Linked DNA regions of Homo sapiens. The protein of the gene in region 1 interacts with the protein of each later gene in a pairwise test. Each region holds a gene or a part of one and is shown on either strand. Other genes may lie near its edges.

Evidence for each region.
Region 2: the proteins of AHCYL1 (region 1) and MAGEA2B interact in binary tests that used the Homo sapiens proteins (3 or more experiments, as listed by UniProt).
Region 3: the proteins of AHCYL1 (region 1) and PRDM6 interact in binary tests that used the Homo sapiens proteins (3 or more experiments, as listed by UniProt).

The regions. Positions count from the first base shown.
Region 1 is NC_000001.11:110,015,620-110,019,270, forward strand, and holds part of AHCYL1 (S-adenosylhomocysteine hydrolase-like protein 1), read left to right. Parts: intron 1-724; coding exon 725-841; intron 842-1,047; coding exon 1,048-1,111; intron 1,112-1,875; coding exon 1,876-1,964; intron 1,965-2,326; coding exon 2,327-2,397; intron 2,398-2,753; coding exon 2,754-2,848; intron 2,849-2,932; coding exon 2,933-3,031; intron 3,032-3,255; coding exon of another isoform or gene 3,256-3,300; exon of another isoform or gene 3,301-3,431; coding exon 3,432-3,500; intron 3,501-3,651. UniProt on the Homo sapiens protein: Multifaceted cellular regulator which coordinates several essential cellular functions including regulation of epithelial HCO3(-) and fluid secretion, mRNA processing and DNA replication.
Region 2 is NC_000023.11:152,713,120-152,716,870, reverse strand, and holds the start of MAGEA2B (melanoma-associated antigen 2), read right to left. Parts: upstream 2,244-3,751; 5' UTR 2,189-2,243; intron 2,025-2,188; exon of another isoform or gene 1,943-2,024; intron 1,793-1,942; 5' UTR 1,714-1,792; intron 915-1,713; 5' UTR 795-914; intron 224-794; exon of another isoform or gene 126-223; intron 1-125. UniProt on the Homo sapiens protein: Reduces p53/TP53 transactivation function through recruitment of HDAC3 to p53/TP53 transcription sites. Also represses p73/TP73 activity. Proposed to enhance ubiquitin ligase activity of RING-type zinc finger-containing E3 ubiquitin-protein ligases.
Region 3 is NC_000005.10:123,099,120-123,102,770, reverse strand, and holds part of PRDM6 (putative histone-lysine N-methyltransferase PRDM6), read right to left. Parts: intron 3,545-3,651; exon of another isoform or gene 3,234-3,544; intron 3,118-3,233; coding exon 2,810-3,117; intron 1-2,809. UniProt on the Homo sapiens protein: Putative histone methyltransferase that acts as a transcriptional repressor of smooth muscle gene expression.

The DNA.
Region 1 (3,651 bases):
TTATAACTAAATGGGAATATCTTCATTAGATAAAATTTTGAGTTTTTACTTTTGAAAAATCAAGTTGATCCTAGAAGGAAGTTATTTCAGGTTCTAGTTCATACATTTTTCTCTCCCATTTACTCCATTGAGTGATTCTCAACTAGTGTTGAGGGGCGGGTAGGGAATAAATGTATCTTGAAAAACTGTATTCAATATTGTATTATCATTTTATATTTGAAATATGAAAAACAATCCTATTGTAAAACTACATGTTATACACACTACAAAAAGTAAAACTGGGCAAAATATTCTTGGCTTGTTGGAATACTGAAAAGATATCTGAAAGAGTGTTTCTTGGGGGCACATTGCGCATGCTTACTCACACACACACGGAACCATATCAGAATCATTGATAGTCTTTGTTTATCAGAAGTAGGCATGGGTTTCTATTGAAAAATGCTGATCAAAGGAAATAACACTCCCTATAAAGGGAAGAGAAGTACATTTCTTCAATTGAAAGGCTTTTTTTTTTCTTCCAAAAAAGGGGTAAAGGGAGAAGAAAATGAAAAGAAGTGTGGAGGGATGACAAGGAAATAATCATGTTTTCTAATATCCTTGGGCAATAAATGAGACTGGGAAGGGCAGCATGGAACTTGAAGAGAATTAGGCAGATTTTGCCACAAATTATGTTGTGCCAGCTAACTTGGTTTTTGTTTGTTTTTGTGACCTCTTCTCTCTTTAGGCTGTATCAGCTCTCCAAAGCTGGGAAGCTCTGTGTTCCGGCCATGAACGTCAATGATTCTGTTACCAAACAGAAGTTTGATAACTTGTACTGCTGCCGAGAATCCATTTTGGATGGGTAGGTTGAATGTATATATATTCAAACTTCTAGGGGCTCTGGTCTTCCTTTGGCTTTAAAAGTTTATTAGAGGGACCATTTCATACTGAGCTCAACCAGCTTCCAATTGATATTCTCATGGGCATTGGCCCACACTTTTAACTTTGTGAAGAGGGACTGAGTTTGAGCTATTAACGTTTGAGTTGAGCCCTTGTCTGTTTCCACAGCCTGAAGAGGACCACAGATGTGATGTTTGGTGGGAAACAAGTGGTGGTGTGTGGCTATGGTGAGGTAAATAGCTGGGTCTCAGTGTCTCTTTCTTTTTGTGTACTTATTAGAAATATTGGGTAAAGGAGGCTTGTGCTGTCAATCTAGAGTCACTGATACAAGGTTTAAATTTTTTTAGATAATGTATCTCAAACAATAGCAAAAGCCTTTTATTCAGATTTATGAATAGAAACATACAAAATGAATTGAGTTTTCAGATTTTACCATTTTGCCTTGTGGAATAGATACTAGTATCATCTTCCCCAATTATAACAATAACCTTTAATGAGACTTAATTCAAGTGAATATATAGCATTTTAGCCCCACAAGTGACTTGCAGTAGAATTAAGGGTGGAATCTGAAATGGCATATAGTTGAATATCTCCAAACTGGAATAGGTCACATATTTTGTTGTCTTCAGCAATGACCCAAAGAAGTTCCTGAGCTACGAGGGTATCCTTGAGTAGATTCTTCTCAAGTAAGAGAATAGGAAATTAGAGGTTGCTTAGAGTAAGTTGCTTTTGCTTAGTCTTGTTTCCCTGATGAAAACTGCTATGCAAAGCCCCAGTCCTTCCTATGACATGTCTGCTAAATTACCTCTCTAACTGAGGTTCACAACGTAATCTGGGTCTGTTTCTGTTCTGCTTGGGATTGGAGCGTCTGTGCAGCTGCTCACCAGATGACAGGCTATTTCATGAAGGTTAATTCCTGTCTCACAAATAACCTACCTACCCTAAATATCCATGACTTAATGAACCTAACGACTTGACCTTTCTTTTGTTCTGCAGGTAGGCAAGGGCTGCTGTGCTGCTCTCAAAGCTCTTGGAGCAATTGTCTACATTACCGAAATCGACCCCATCTGTGCTCTGCAGGCCTGGTAAGAACAGAGTGATAATACTATTAGATTCACTCTAGGTGCTTTATGTTATTGAGAGTTCATAATTGAGTATATTAATCATTTTTGCAGAAATCACCTAGGGGAAGAGAAGGCTAGGACTGCTCTGTTCTTCTCACTCTAACCCTAGGGCTCTCTGAGAGCCTCTTGGCATTTTTCCTTCCTAGAGGGAGTCTTGGGGACTCTGAAGAGGCCAGTGTATATAGTTTAGCAGAGCTTATCACTCACCATTCCTGTGAGGTGGCACTGGATCCAACTAGAAGGGGATCTTGTCTCATTTCATGACCATCTTCCCTCCCACTGCCTTCTTGCTTTACTCATAGTGTTCCTTTCTTTTCTTCCAGCATGGATGGGTTCAGGGTGGTAAAGCTAAATGAAGTCATCCGGCAAGTCGATGTCGTAATAACTTGCACAGGTAAATAACTTGCATAGAGAAGTGTTTATTCAGAGGCTAAATCTTGAAAGTAGTCTGAGTGACTTTCATACAAAGGAGGTGAGACCTCTGTTCAGTATAAAGGTCTCAGAACTAGAATAAGCTATCAGAACCTTAACATGTTTTCCAGAGTAAAAAACTTTTTTCCCTGGTGACTTTTTATACTGCTTGATCTGAAGACCAGATAGCCTAAGGAGCGGTTATGCATGTCTTCTCTCAGAATGTCTACATGTTCTTTAATGCCAGCAAGCCTCTGGTCTCCTATGTTCTACCTGAAAGCCAGCCAGTACCTTTGTTGCCCGGCATCTCTTTCCTTAACCACCCATCTTTTCTTTTAGGAAATAAGAATGTAGTGACACGGGAGCACTTGGATCGCATGAAAAACAGTTGTATCGTATGCAATATGGGCCACTCCAACACAGAAATCGATGTGGTAAGGCTTCTCTCATTTGTTGCTAGGCATTTCTCTACTACCTTTCATTAATAACCATAGTCAACTGTGCTTTCTTCCTTTCAGACCAGCCTCCGCACTCCGGAGCTGACGTGGGAGCGAGTACGTTCTCAGGTGGACCATGTCATCTGGCCAGATGGCAAACGAGTTGTCCTCCTGGCAGAGGTACACACAGAGAAGGACCCTGGCAGAGCAGCACAAGCAGAGTAGTTAGATCTATGAGGGGGGAGGGGAGGGAAACAAATATTAGGCCTATGTTTCCCTGAATTTTATCTTTGGAGAGAGAGATATTTCACAAATTGGTCCCCAAAATAAAACCACTTTAAAAAAATCTACTTTTTACTAAGTAACACTATTTCCTAACCACAGCTGATTCTTTAACCTTTCAGACTCAGATGGATTTGCAGAAAATAGGAAAAAGCCTAGAGTCCTGATCTGGAACTGTAATTCTTCCTCTTCCAACTGAGTCTAGAGGGGTGTAAAGTCCTCTCCCGCTTTGGCTTGACTTGTATGCCATTGGAATCTGAGACAGAGCTCATCCCAGGGCTCTCTCTTACCTTTCCAGGGTCGTCTACTCAATTTGAGCTGCTCCACAGTTCCCACCTTTGTTCTGTCCATCACAGCCACAACACAGGTATGTGGCAAAATGCCTGCTTACACTGCACTGCAATTTGTGGAACTGGGCGTAGATCAGTTCCAGTGAGGGTGTACTGTACTATGTTCTCATCATCCTATTCTTTTTTGATGTAATAAATTGTGGAAACAGGTATTCTTAAGTATAGAAA
Region 2 (3,751 bases), on another chromosome or scaffold:
TCAGGGTACAGCCGGCCAGCACATGCTCAGGCTGCAGGACTGAGAATAGGGAGGGTGAGGCCAGGCCCTCTGGAGTCCCATTTGTTCTGGGCGGGTGGGGCCCTTGGTGTGCATTCCAGGCAAACCTTCAGTGTTGGCACTGTCTGCGTCCCCTCTGCTCTGTGACCTGAGGACACTGACTCAGACCAAGGCCTCACTGCCTGGTTCCTGGAGCTCCTGATTCCTGGGAGAGGAATGCACGGGCCTTCAGTGTGCAGACTGCAAGCACAGCCACGGATTCCCAGAAGTCTCAGCAGGGTTGGCCAGACTCCGTGAGGTCCCCACTCTACTTGGGTGGAGGGTCCCCTCTGTGCTCACTCAGGGCCCTCACCTTTCTCCTTGTAGGGCCTAATCCCACCCTTTTGCTGGCTTGAGAATCTCTCATGTCAAGAACTCACATCCCTGATATGGTACAGAAGGAGATGAGGGGACCCACATCTGGCCATACGTGACCAGGTCCTCCCGCGAAGGACAACGAGAGATGTCCAAATTCATTGGAGTCCAGGTGTCCTGGGTGACGAGTCCGCTTGGTCCTCACGTCCACTCCTGGCAGGGCCTGAGACCCTCCCTCTACTGACCTGACTCCAGCCCCTTCAGACCAAGGCCTCCCCTTCCCTGACATCAAAGATCCCAGGATAATGGAGGGACTTCAGCTGACAGCCCTGCCCAGGGTCTCTGAAGTAACCGCAGGGGCAGGGCAGATTTCTATGGGGCCCCCTGTCTGCATTCTGGCCCAGGAGTACCCTCAATCCTACCTCAGGCTCTCCACCTGGATGCTTGGCAGATCCTAGAACCACTGCATCTGTCGACCAGATGGGGGCCCCTGTGTTGACCTGAGTCACCTTCTGAAAACAAGGTCATCAACTCCCTGAGATCTGGAAACAGAAGTGAGGAGGGGCCACATCCTGTTACCCCCACGTGCGTTGTCCAGGGCTGACCCCTTTGGTTCTAGGGTGAACGTTATGATGGCCTCCTGTGGGTTACTCATCTTTACTCCTGCCAGGGACTGCCCTTTCTCAACCCCCAACCCCCTGAAATGAGCAGACAGCTCCTCTTTACACCAACACCTTATCTCCCTGAGGGTTCCCCAACCTCCTGCCTGTGGTACAAATGAGATTGTCACTTAGGGCCATCCCTGATCAGGTTCCCCCAGAGCTAAGAACAAGGGACGGCCAGACTCTGTGGCATCCCTTCTTTCTGGGCCGGGGGTATCCCCAGTCCTCATGAAGGGGGCACACCTTGGGTCCGGCAGATCCTGGGATTCCTCCCTCTGCTGACCTGAAGTCCCAGCCCTCAGACCACAGCCCTCAACTCTCTGTCACCCTGAAGGTGCAATGAGCACGGGGCACATTCGGCCACTGTGCCCAGGATCCCCCAGCCCAAGGTTGCCACTGATCTGGACTCCAAGGTCCCCTCAGTCCTCCCTCTTCTTCCTCCCCTTGACTCCTCGCAGGGCTGGGCCCCAACCCCCTGCTGAAGTGGGTCTGCATCCCTAGGATTCCCGCGGCTGAATGAAAAGGTGGCTCAGTTTGAGACAGGGGTACAGTGGGCCCCCTGTCCTGGCATGCTGGGTCCCCTAAGGACTCCACTGTCTTCCAGGAGGGCCTGGGCCCTTCCTCTGCATCCCAAAGGCCATACTCACGAGACCCAACCCCTTCCCTCCCTTAGCCGTACATGTGAACGTCAGGATCCGCGTGCTTGGCCGCCATTCCCGGAGCTTCCGTGGGTTGATTGCAGGGGCAAAGCCCGGATTCTGCCAGGATGGTGGTGGGGGAGGAGATGGGAATGGGGTTTGGGGGTGGGGTTGGTGTTTGAGGGATGGGGGTGGGGTTGGTGTTGGGGGATGGGATTGGTAGTGAGGGTAGGGGGTGGGTTGCCCTCAGTCCCCTCTTGGGGTCCTGACCTTGATTCCTGGCTGAGTCTGGGCCCTGAGCACTTCTAACCAGCCCTGCCCTGGTCACACAAAGCTCTTACGCCAGAGTTCCCTGCGGTTAAAGCGGCGGGGGGTGGCGGGGTGAGGTGGTGGCGACTCAGCCTGAGAAGTCTTCCCCTGCAGGGTGGTCCAGGCCCGGCAGCAGAGGCAGCGCTGGATTATTGGGGGCCCTCTGTCTGGGGTGAGGCCCGCCTCAGTCCTCCCTCGGCGTCTTACCTTGCCTCCTCACGGAGCCTGCGCCTGCTTCCCTCCGCCGACGTCAGGCCGTTGCTCAGGGCGAGAATCTCGCTGTCCTCTGACCTCCAATGCGCAAGTCAGTGGCGTCACATCCGGGCCCGTGACTTCCCTGGGTTCACGGCAAGGGTGGAACCGGATTCTGCCCGGATGGGGATCTGGATGGGGGGGTGGGGGTAAGCATGAAGATGGTGTTGGTGTAGGGGTAGGGATTGGGACGGGGATCCTGAGGCTGTAGATCCTGGTGGGGTCGGGGGAGTTGGGGGTGGGAGGGGCCTTTGGTCATCCCTCAAGGTCCTGACTTGGATGCCAGACTGAGCCTGGACCGCCATCCTCTGCCGATTGTGTTTGCTCCCCTCAGACCAAGTCTCTGACTCTGAGTCGGCCCGAAGTGGCATTGGGGGGAGGGGTGTGCTCGGGGTGAGATCATTGCCAGTGTGTACCAGGGCTGACAAGAGGGGCTGAGCTGGATTCTGTGGTCCCACTATGTGGGTGAGGGTGGATCCTCAGTCCTCACTCAGGAGGGTCCTCTTCCTCACTCCTGGCTGTTTGATGAAGGAATGGGTGGGAGATGCTCTGTTTCTGTCACCTCTGAGCATCTGCGCATCTGCGCATCTGCACCCCTTGTAGAGAATGGCTGCGGGTGCCAGGCCAGGTGCTCCCTGCAGGGCAGGAGCTCCCGCGATGATAGTGACCTCTGGGAGAAGACGCACACCTTCCCACGGGGGCTCCTCCCCAGCCAGAGCTACACTTGGCAAACCTTTGGTCCTAAATGATTTATTCTCTGAATTGAAGAAATACGGTTTACATATCTTCTAAGTATATATGTAGGTAGCAATATATATATTTATTTCTATGAACTAACACCTACCCTTAGTATGCATGATTCACTCTGATATCCTAGTCTACTTCCATTCCAGTCTTTGTGTTCTGTTGAAAGAATTTTTTTAAAAAACATAATTCCTCTCCCACTCTGTTGGTTTCAGGTTGTTATTAGCAGAACTCTGGAGCCATGCTGCCTTAACAAACCCAATTTTCCTGGTGGACACTGCTATTACCTAGGGCTCTTGGCATCGTGTTTTCAGGGGCTGCCTCAGATTGTGCAATGAAGTGAAGTGGAAAATTCAAAACTTTTATTCTACCCATTCTTTCATCTGCCGTCTAGGCAGGCTACAAACCTCCCCAACATCTCTGCCGCTAACCCCCTCCAACAGACACTGCAAGTGTCACACACAAGTACCAGCTCAACACAGTCTCCAGTCTCACTCTGGGCTTTCCCTGTTTTGTTGTGTAGATTTTCTTGCTGATACTGGTGTTTTACTTTCTGTTTCCATTCTATAAATTTACAGGGTTGATTTGGGAAGCAGAGCACAGCAGCCCAAATTTGCTTGTAATGTCGGCGGCTACAGGTAAGGCACTAAATTGTAAATAATTTAAGCTGAGTTTACATTTTTACACTGTTGTGTTCCCCGTGAATGAATATGTTATACTCCTCTATGGATTTCAAGCTCTTTTTTCCTGAATATGTCAGTATACTTCGGTAGT
Region 3 (3,651 bases), on another chromosome or scaffold:
AGATCCATCAGGACCTGAGTATTGAACTTGAAATAAAAAGACATTTCTTCATCAGCAAATGACTTGAAAAAATGTGAGGAAGAGAAATGATTACAGTTGCCTTTTAAAATAAAATAATCATGATTCAACTGCTTTTAATTTTTTTAATACATTTTGTTGACTTGCTATTCTGGAAGACATCTAAAAGAATAAGTTTTTGAAATGGATAATTATTACATGAGTCATTAAACAATTATTGCCAAACATTTCCGATAGACCTACAATGTATTCTACTTACTGATTCTAATGTGAATAATATGATGATTTTTTTAAATTTCAGAAGAAAATTTAGCTTTGAAAGAAAGAACTAAAATTTAAGGAACAATCTAACATTTGGAATATTGTATTATAAATGTAACAATTCAAACGGTCATGTTTCATAAAAATAAATCATAATGCTTAAAAATTTTAAACTCATATTCTATATCTTAAAAATCATTATGCTAATAAAAATCTGAAACCTATTTTATAAAGTAAGTATTTTATTTTACAAATGGATATTGGCACTAAGTTACCTGGCCCCAGTTAGTCGCATTTCACGTGATCTCCCAGGAGACTGACACATTTTGTATGGCTAAAGTTTTAAAATCCCTTCAATTCCCAAATGTACCTTATTCTAACTGTTGTTACAGATAATTAAAAAAAATAGATTATGTCCTGAATTTAGGAGTTGGATCCTGTAGATCATCCAAGCATACACCCAGCAAGTCTTTTTTCTAACAGAGAACCAACTCTAAGAACCATCCCAGCACACTCAACTCACATGCCCTGAACAATAGATAAAATTCACTTTATATCTACTGAAGTATCAAGAAAAAGAAAAACACTGACTAAATTCCCCAGTCTCTTTACTACAACAAAATTTTAACTTCATCAAGTACAAGTAAAGGTAGAAAAGAAAGGTTTCATAGTTTTCAGTGTTAATATGCATTGTTATAGTCTATATGTGTAGTGGCCTCCTGCCAACATCCCAATCATTCAAAGCCTTCTGGGGGGGAAAAAACCCACAATGAACTATGAGATTTTTGTTCATGTTTATGTCTTTGTCCCCTGGCACTCTAAAAATAGATAGGCATCAAAGGGCAATATAATAGTGTTCAGTTTTAACATTTTCAGGTAGAGTAAATTTGTACTATTGAACAATTGCTGTACGATTTTCTTAGAAAAATATTGGCAGACCTTTAACTATATGATATTAGAGTTCCTAATAACACTACTGGAACATGAGAAGTACCTAAAAGTGTTTTATAAACTTTAAACCACATTGGAGGTTACAATTAATTAGTCAGAAACAAAAACCAAAATGTTTCCAAACCAGATGCTTTGAGCCGGGGCACTCCAGCAGATAACTATAGGGTAGGTAGTTCATTGGCTTCCACGTCCTCATTTTGGGCTGCTGGGCTGTAGACTCATACACTCAGCTCCTCCTCCATCAAAAGAGGCTTTGCAGACACAGGCCTCAGGACCCCATCCCCAACAGTCACAGGAGGGTTCCGGATACCAGGTCTGTTTTTCATACTGTATCTCCATGGCCTAATATAGTGCTGGCCAGAGTGGGCACTCATCAAAAATTTGAGTGGATTAATGAGTCCCATGAGCTTTATTTAGTGAATATAAGGCAGCTCACAGTGAAAAAGATCATTTTGACAGGCCAGCAAGCCAAGTATGAGAGGCAATCTCTTGCAGAAACGATGCATTAATGGAGCCCAGGGGTTCATGTCAACCTGACCCCTGGCATTTAAGAAACTTTATTTTCTAGCTATTCCTACTTTATTATACCACTTGCCCAGTTAGTCAGATTTACATATTGTTTAAGGGTATGACTTCTGTCATCTTGTATTACATAAGCAACTTTCCATGGATGGAGGTGGCTAAGATTGGTAGGGGGATGACCTAATGATAGGCATCTATCTCTTCAGAAGTGAACCTCAATAATCCACCATGATGTTTTGGGAGAAACCTCAGGCTGACATTTTTCAAATAGGTTATTTTTAAATAATTGCTTCAGGTAAGATTGTGCCATTAAAGTATTACCCTCAATTGGGTTACACCAAAGTGCTCACACTGTTCCCATGTTTTGATTTTCCATATTGATGAAGATTACATAATTTCCGTTCATCAGAGAAGCAGCAGAATTTGCGATTTCTGATTCCCAATATAATTTGCTTAATTTGGGCCCTTTGATTCCCAATATAATTTGCTTACTTTGGGCCCTTTGAAAGTTGTGAAACATGTGATCTCTCACGTTCAACTTTGACAAAATTGTTTTTATCTGAGAAAAGGGGCCAGCCTCTCCTTCCTCCCCTCTATGCTTCTGTTCCTTTCTGCTCACTACACAGAAACACACTGGAAGTGCTTGGAATGGGACATAAAGGTCACCCAGCTCAAACATTCTAATGCCCACCCTCCGCTGCTCCATCTCCTCAGCTGTTTTCTCTTTTTCTCAAAATTCACAGAGACCAACGGTCAAATCCATTCCAGCTGGAATGGAGGCAGCTTAAGGTGACTCTGTCTTCAGACACCTGTAGGCTGTTTCCCTGGCTGGGTTGCTATTGTGTCAGTCCCAGCTCTGTCAGCCTCCTTACTGCAGGTGCTTCAGACACCAGGCATCTACAGGACCAGAGAAATCTATTCTCCGCTACCCTCTGGGGGCCAAGGGAGGCTCTCTTCGCAGTTGCCACAGCCAAAGGCCAGGCTCCCTGCCGGCCAAGGCTCCCTGCTGGCCAAGGCTCCTGCTCGGTGGGGAGGCGCTGTGCAGCCGGCCACTTACCTCCCAGAGATGCTGCGTGTTCCTCACGGCGCCTGCCTGCACCTTCTCTGGGGGCAGAAGCACGCCTTGGAAAGGTCCAATCCAGGTGCCTTGCTGGATCCTCTGCGCCGCGCAGATGCCGTAGGCCAGGCCGGGCACAGTACTGGTGCAGAGGCACACCTCGCGAGGCAGGTCCCGCAGCCACTCCGGCAGCTCCGGCGGGGGCGCGGCGGCCGCAGCGCTGCTGGTGCCCACAAGCCGGCGCAGCGAGTGCAGTGGCCCATGCATAGGGCACTCGCCGTTGCGGTTGTCCGCGCACATGTCGCAACCTGCGGGAGACAAGAAGGAGGAAGGGAAGGGAGCGGGTTAATCCGGCCGCCCCGAGCGGCCCATCTTTGAGTAAACTCCCGAGACAACAGCATCACCGCCCGCCTGGGTAAGCCACCTTCGAGGAAGGTGATGCCTTGGGGGCACCGAAGCAACTCAGAGGAGGAGGAGAAGAGAACCCGCGCCGCTCCCTTGGAATTCGCCGCACCCAGATCTGCCTGGTACCGGGCCAGGACTCTAGGCTCCCCAAAAAGCCTTCGGATCTGGGCGCAGATAGCATGTCCGCTCTCCACGGAACCGACAGTTCCAGGCTTCTTCCTCCCGTTTCAGTCTCTCTGCATCTCTCCCTCTGTCTCTGTCTCTCTCTCTCTCTTCCCTACTGTCTCTCGTTCCTTCTGACCCTCTCGCCCATTCCTGAGGTTTCTATCTGGAGTTTCAGGATGTGTTTATCCTTGTATTGCGAAAAAAAGCCCGTCTCTTGCCCAATCTGCTGTCTCGAAGAGATTCTATACTGGTCGTCTGGGTATTCAGCTTTC